2 linked regions of the Homo sapiens genome follow. The protein of the gene in region 1 purifies or fractionates together with the protein of each later gene. This does not show direct contact. Each region holds a gene or a part of one and is shown on either strand. Other genes may lie near its edges.

Region 1 (3,656 bases):
ATTTCTTTGGGGGCAGAATTTGCCTTGTTCATCACATTCCTCAGTGCTTGGCATGTGAGAAACACCCAGAAATTTGTTGAGCTGGCTCCAGAGGCACGGGTATGTATGTACTTGTTTCTTTCTGTGATGAAGGTGCCAACACTCTCTCTGGGACCTTGTCTTCATAGAGCCACTCCCCTGCCACAACAGCAAACACTTTCTTTACCATAGTTGATGAAACAGACCAGATATGTGAATGGATGCATTGTATACTTTGGGGGACCATTGCAATCAGTGTGCCCTTGCCTTCTAGCTTTGGGTGATGTGGGCTACCTTGCAGCATACACCTGGGTGTTCCTGATAACATTTTATCTGAAAGGGGACAAAGTATTTTCAGGTTCTCCTTTCTAAGTGTTTCTGAGCAGGGCTTGGAGGAAAAAGTAGCCCCATTGGAAGTGTTCAGATTTGCTGCCTTGGTTTTGGTGATGGTGGCAGATCATTCCAGGTGTTTCCTATGACTCTTTAATGTTGAAATGCACCACTGGGAAACAACTCTGGCCCATTGCAGGGGGATGCAGTAATGCAAATAAATACTGGTGACCTGTAGCAGTGATGGGGGAAGCATCTGAAAACAGGGTAGGGGGATTGTTGAATTCTTACGTCTGCTGTGTCTTGCAGAGACACAAGTGTCACCACAGTGTATTTGTGTGTGTGTGTTTTCCTTAAATCATGCCTTGCCGAAATAATTGTGTTTACACTTCAAAATGCTAATCCAAACTACTGAACTGCAGTCAGGCTGAGTAAGGAATAATGGTAATCTTTTCTGTCCTCTCTGCATACTTTTTTTCCTTAGTGGGTAGGTGTTGCTTTTTGTTTTCAATCACATTGTGGTTGTTTTCAGGTATATTGAATTGTCAAAGTTGGCAGAGTAAATGTTCACAGGTTCAATATGTTCCTGCTTGGTGATGGTTGCAATTTTCTTGACAGAGGAACTAATCCTCTGGAAAATATTTTTAATTGTGAGGATCTTGGGGTGGTGTTAACTTGCAGATTCTTCCTACTTCTCCAAGGCTGTCAAATTTTCTTATCTTTTATGGCTGTGAAATGCACAGCTGTGAAGTCTATTCCAACCCTGATACCAGTAAATTGCAAAGGTCACTTTGTGTAGGTTCTCTCTTTAGGGATAAGTATTCTTTTAAAAAAGGCTTAACAATATGATTGATGGTCATTTAGAATTAACCCTCCCCTTTACTTATTGGTTCCTGGATCAGACATATGGAGTGCAATTTAATGATTATAGTTCATTACAATACTCATTTGTTTTTTGCTGGGAGATTTTTCTGGTCTCCCCTCTCTGCCCCCGCCTTTGTTTCTTCAGTAAGGTACAAAATGGCATGTAATAAATAAAATAAATATAGCCTCAAAGAGGCAGGATTCAGCTGTCAAGTGCTTATAATACTGTGTGCTGGATACAAATATCCAAAAGGAATGTTAGGGCTCTCCCGGTAGCATAGCGAGGATTGCACTTGACTTTCATTCAGCCTGGCCCTGGCCTGGTGCTGTAGGGAATACAGAGCAGAGGGAAACAGCCTTTCTCTCCAGCCTTGGGGATTGTGCAGTGCAGAAGGAACCAACACACACATGGATGCAGGAAGGGAAGCTTAGGCCGACTCCTGTAGGGGTTCCCAGGGAGGGGAATTTTACCTTCCAGCTTCCAAAATGAAGTTCATCTATCTCTGTGAATATCTTTAAGGGTAACAAGTTATCACATTCATTCACAGTTTAATTAGCTTGTAGTTTATTATGTAAGGCAGAGATGGGGAGAGCTGTTGCTCAATTTATGCTGAGGTGGCACTGGGAGGCTTTTGGTTTGTTTTTAATTTTTGTTTTTATGTGATGATGATTGAAAAGAAATGTCATTGATATTTTAATTTCATAATCTGCATCTGTCAGTACATGGAAATTATCTAGGTGGTTTTTTTCCCTCTATTCCTGTTTCTTTCATGGAATAATGGTGGATGGACGGAATTTCTCAAGTTTTTAATCCGAAACTATCTGAAAGCAAAGACTTCTTGCAGTAAAATTAGAGGTACTATTTTATAGGAAATTTTGAATTCTAGTTTTTTACAAAAGCAGTGCTGATTGATGGGCTAATCTTCCATGCATCTGTTCCAGATCAATCCAGCCTTGTGGTGCCAGGTGTGTGTCCAAAGTGATCTGGGTAATACCCACCAGGGCATCTCAGGGCACTGAGGATCAAATGAGGCCACTTGGTACTGCAGAGCAGAGTTGGGATGTTCAGCCAGGCATAAGTCATCATTCAAAAAGTTTTCCATAGGAGGAAGGACGAGAGTAAAAGAATGAAAGCAGCAGGGATTATGGGTGACCTAAAGAAAATTCTTAGAAATCTAGTTACCTGTGTTAAACACTTCACCTGTTGCTTCTATAAGTGAACAGTTTGAGTCTTTTGTGCTGTCTGCTTGTTGAGATTGAATTAGAGAGGCTAAAAGGGACAGATCTGAGAGAAAAATAATTATACCTGGAGTTTCATATAGATAACTTTTCAACTCATGAAATTACTTGTATGCAAGCTTGACTTTTTAAAAATTATCCTAATAGGCCAGGTGTGATGGCTCACGCCTGTAATCCCAGCACTTTGGGGAGGCCGAGGCAGGCGGATCACCTGAGGTCGGGAGTTTGAGACCAGCCTGACTAACATGGAGAAACCCCTTCTCTACTAAAAATACAAAAAATTAGCTGGGCATGGTGGTGCATGCCTGTAATCCCAGCTACTCGGGAGGCTGAGGCAGGAGAATCGCTTGAACCCGGGAGGTGGAGGTTGCGGTGAGCCGAGATTGCACCATTTTACTCCAGCCTGGGCAACAGGAGTGAAACTCCATCTCAAAAAAAAAAAAAATTATCCTAATATACCAACTCAAATGATAACTTTTATTCTACTGAGAGATGTTTTTTGTGGGGTGGAGTTCTTCACTAGACCAGAGTTTATCTAAACAAAGACATCCGTTGAGTCAAAACATCGTGTCTTCACTTCATTTAGTAGCCCTACTAATCTTTGAGGAAAAAATTGACTAGGTGATTTTATTGTTTTTATTAACCAAAGAGTACTGTTTTAAGTGTATTCTCCATAAAGTAGAGTTAGACTTCTTCAGGTTCAAATCACTACCTGGTAAGGGTTTATGTCCCTTGGAAAGTATATTAACTGTTTTATGCCATTTTGAGCCTTGCATGCATGGGGTTTATATTGTGAAATACCTTAGGTACCCAGAGAAGAGTACCAGTGACTTTTTTTGCATTTTTTTTTGTGATAAAAACATACACAACATATAATTCACCATTTTAACCATTTGTAAGTGTACAATTCAGTGGCTTTAAGTACATTCACAGTGTTTTGCAACCATCACCATTATCCATATCCAGAACTTTTCATCATCCCAAAAGGAAACTCTGTACCCATTAAACAATAACACCCATTTTTTTTTCCTCCCTGGTAAACCTCTATTCCTAGTGACTTAATTTTTTTTGTTTGTTTGTTTTTGTTCTTGTTTTTGTTTGTTTTTTTTTTTAAAGAAAGACTTACTCTGGTCTACAAAAGCTGCTAGCTGCTTTTTACTGTCCTGGTCTTGAAGTTATAAATTTGGACCTTAAGTGTTGATGTC
Region 2 (3,656 bases), on another chromosome or scaffold:
TTTTTGAGACGGAGTCTCGCTGTGTTGCCCAGGCTGGAGTGCAGTGGTGCGATCTCGGCTTACTGCAGCCTCTGCCTCCCGGGTTCAAGGATTCTTCTGCCTCAGCCTCCCGAGTAGCTGGGATTACAGGTGCGCACCACCACACCCAGCTAATTTTTTTGTATTTTTAGTAGAAACGGGGTTTCACCATATTGGCCAGGCTGGTCTTGAACTCCTGACCTCGTGATCCACCCGCTTCAGCCTCCCATAGTGCTGGGATTACAGGCGTGAGCCACTGCGCCCGGCCCGTTTTCTCTTCTTTAAAATCAGGACTTGCTTTATAGAATTCAGTGAGGAAGAACAAGCACCCCTGGTACAACACGGAGGTCCTGCCTAGTACACACAGTGAGTAGATGTTCTACACAGTGTCAGTGATGATCATTGCACTTTGAGAGGCTAAGAACTTTCTCCTCAGAAAGCAACGTGTGTAATTTTAAGGTTTATGGACCCCAGTGAAACTCCTTCAAGGACCCCTAAATAAGAACCTTTGTGGAAGGCACGCTGACAGAGACCTTCTGCTGGCTGGCATAATATTACGTTTTTCCTTTGAGTCATTCATTGCAACCATTTTTAAAGGCTATTTTAATGAAGGTCGGGATGGGTAATAGGGAAGTTTTCTCTGAGGAGATGAGCCCATGATGGGGTGCAGGATGGGGCTCCAGGGCTGCGGATGGTGGAGAGGGAGCTGTCCAGTGACTTTGTGTTCTCACCACAGCCACCGCTGGAGTCGCTGGCCACAGTGGAGGAGACAGTGGTGCGGGACAAGGCAGTGGAGTCCTTACGGGCCATCTCACACGAGCACTCGCCCTCTGACCTGGAGGCGCACTTTGTGCCGCTAGTGAAGCGGCTGGCGGGCGGCGACTGGTTCACCTCCCGCACCTCGGCCTGCGGCCTCTTCTCCGTCTGCTACCCCCGAGTGTCCAGTGCTGTGAAGGCGGAACTTCGACAGTGAGTCTCTGCCTCCTTGGAAGCTCCAAGCTCCCATCTCAGCTCCAACCTTCTCTAAAGCCTCAGACTCCTTTTGGTCTAGCTGGGGCCCAAATGCCCCTGAACTCTCTCCACTCCCACTCCTGCTTACCACCTGATAGGCCACATCCTCGAGAGTTGGTCTCTGGACACGGCCACGTGTCAGTTTACCCACCTCTGCCCCCTTGCTCACTTAGGAATTGAGATGATGACAGGTCCTCCTTCCCACTGGTTAATGTGAGGATTTAAAAGAATTATCACACATAAAGTGCTTAGAGCAAAATCTGGAACATAAAAACTTTCAGCAACTTACATCTGATGGTATCTCCAGCCTGTCCCAGGTCCAGTGCCTTTGGCAGATAAACCACCTCAGTTTTCAGCCTCCTGCTCGTCTACTTTGCAAACGATTGACCGTCAAGCCCGGGTTTGAGCCTGACTCACTCCAGAACTCTGGTTTATGGCTGTACACTTGCTTAGATACTTACACTGGCCCCCACCGCCTTTGATCGAAGCAATTGCTGCTGAAAAATAAAGCCTTTCTGTGGCTCTAGACCTGCCTCTTAGTTAAGCAGTTTTTTGTTTGTTTGTTTTTTGAGATAGGATCTCGCTCTGTCATCCAGGCTGAAGTGCACTGGTGCAGTCATAGCCCACTGCAGCCTCAACCTCCTGGGCTCAAGCATTCCTCCTGCCTTAGCCTCTCAAATAGCTGGGACCACAGGTGTGCAACACCACGCTGGGCTCATTTTTTATTTTTGGCAGAGATGGGGTCTCACTATGTTGCTCAGGCTGGTCTTGAACTCCTGGGCTCAAGCAATCCTCCTGCCTTGGTCTTCCAAAGTGTTCAGATTACAGGTATGAGCCACTGTGCCTGGCTCGTTGGTTAAGCAATTTTTATGGGAATGATGTAATCGTCAGCACTTAGCATTGACTAGATTTATTATGCGCAATCTGCGAAGTGTCTCACACACACTATTTTCATTTAAACCTCATGCGGACCTGTGGGGTAGGTACTGTTACTATCAGCTCCGTTTCATAGGGCTGGGAAGACAGAGAGGGGGTCATCACTTGCCCAAGGTCATTCAGCTAAAACCTGGACCCACACAACTGCAGAGTCTGTGCTTGCTCCTCTCTGCCATACTGCCTGCTGCCTCAGGATCCCCGTCCCCGACTCCCAGGTACTTCCGGAACCTGTGCTCAGATGACACCCCCATGGTGCGGCGGGCCGCAGCCTCCAAGCTGGGGGAGTTTGCCAAGGTGCTGGAGCTGGACAACGTCAAGAGTGAGATCATCCCCATGTTCTCCAACCTGGCCTCTGACGAGCAGGTGAGTTTTGCTTCCTGGCCCTCTGCTCTCCCGTCCTTCTGGTGGTTCCTGCCCATGAAAGAGAATCCCAGAGCTCAGCAAGGCCTCTGCTGCCCTCCCACTGTTCCTCTCCTCTCCCTAGGACTCGGTGCGGCTGCTGGCGGTGGAGGCGTGCGTGAACATCGCCCAGCTTCTGCCCCAGGAGGATCTGGAGGCCCTGGTGATGCCCACTCTGCGCCAGGCCGCTGAAGACAAGTCCTGGCGCGTCCGCTACATGGTGGCTGACAAGTTCACAGAGGTAGATGAGCGACCGTTGACATTGTCCCACTGGTGGGGACACTGACACTCTCAGAAGGGAAGCATATAGGAGCTGAGGTTTCCATTAGGCCGATGGAACCATTGGGCGTTTGAGCAATAAGATCTCTATGATCATCTAACTGCGTCTCGCTTCGTGTGCCAATCCTGGTTGATTGACATGGCATCTTAAAGTGCTGCCTTGAGAAAGATTCTGAGGCAAAGTTAAGGCTACGTGGAGGAAAGTGCCACAGGAGCAGAGAAGGGTAGCACATGTGGGGTGTTCCTGACATAATCAAGCTGTCCTTTCACAAAGGGGAAGACAGCCCAAAAAGGTGGGGTTTTTTGGTGTTTTTTTTTTTTTTTTTTTTTTTTTTTTTTAAGATGGAGTCTGTCGCCCAGGCTAGAGTCTTGTTACCCAGCTGGAGTGTGGTGGCGCAATCTTGGCTCACTGCAGCCTGTCCCTCCCGGGTGCAGGCATTTCTCCTGCCTCAGCCTCCTGAGGGACTGGGATTACAGATGCCCACCACGACACCCGGCTAGTTTTTGTATTTTTATTAGAGACGGGGTTTCACCATGTTGTTAGCCAGGCTAGTCTCGAACTCCTGACCTCAAGCGATCCGCCTGCCTTCATCTCCCAAAGTGCTGGGATTACAGGTGTTAGCCACCGCGCCCAGCCCCGGAAAGTTTAATTAACTGATCAGAGTGACACTACCAGCCAGGCAGAAAGGGGACAAGACTCCAGGTCTGTGACTCTCAGGACAGTGCTCCTTCCACAGGGATCCAGATTGCCTCATCCCACAAACATGTTTGCTGAGCACCAGCTATTTGCTGGGCCAGTGAATTCGGATCATTCCTGGCCTTCATGGAGCTAGGCAGTCTGAAGGGGAAGACTGACTTAGGGGAAATTTGATTATAAAGTGTCACAGGTGTGGGACAGACAGACAGATGTGGGGCCTTGGAAGCATTGAGGAGGGGAGGTGGTGTTACAGCTGGTTCTAGAAGATGAGTGGGTAAGAGCTAAGATAGGAACTTTGTTCCAGCCAGAGGACAAA

The links. Proteins that work in one complex are often made in the same cells at the same time.
Region 2: the proteins of CCDC6 (region 1) and PPP2R1A purify together in Homo sapiens (affinity purification with mass spectrometry; 5 studies listed by BioGRID and IntAct, with this or other methods). This does not show direct contact.

What each region holds. Positions count from the first base shown.
Region 1 is NC_000010.11:59,896,497-59,900,152, reverse strand, and holds part of CCDC6 (coiled-coil domain-containing protein 6), read left to right. Parts: intron 1-3,656.
Region 2 is NC_000019.10:52,210,506-52,214,161, forward strand, and holds part of PPP2R1A (serine/threonine-protein phosphatase 2A 65 kDa regulatory subunit A alpha isoform), read left to right. Parts: intron 1-754; coding exon 755-987; intron 988-2,180; coding exon 2,181-2,328; intron 2,329-2,449; coding exon 2,450-2,605; intron 2,606-3,656. UniProt on the Homo sapiens protein: The PR65 subunit of protein phosphatase 2A serves as a scaffolding molecule to coordinate the assembly of the catalytic subunit and a variable regulatory B subunit.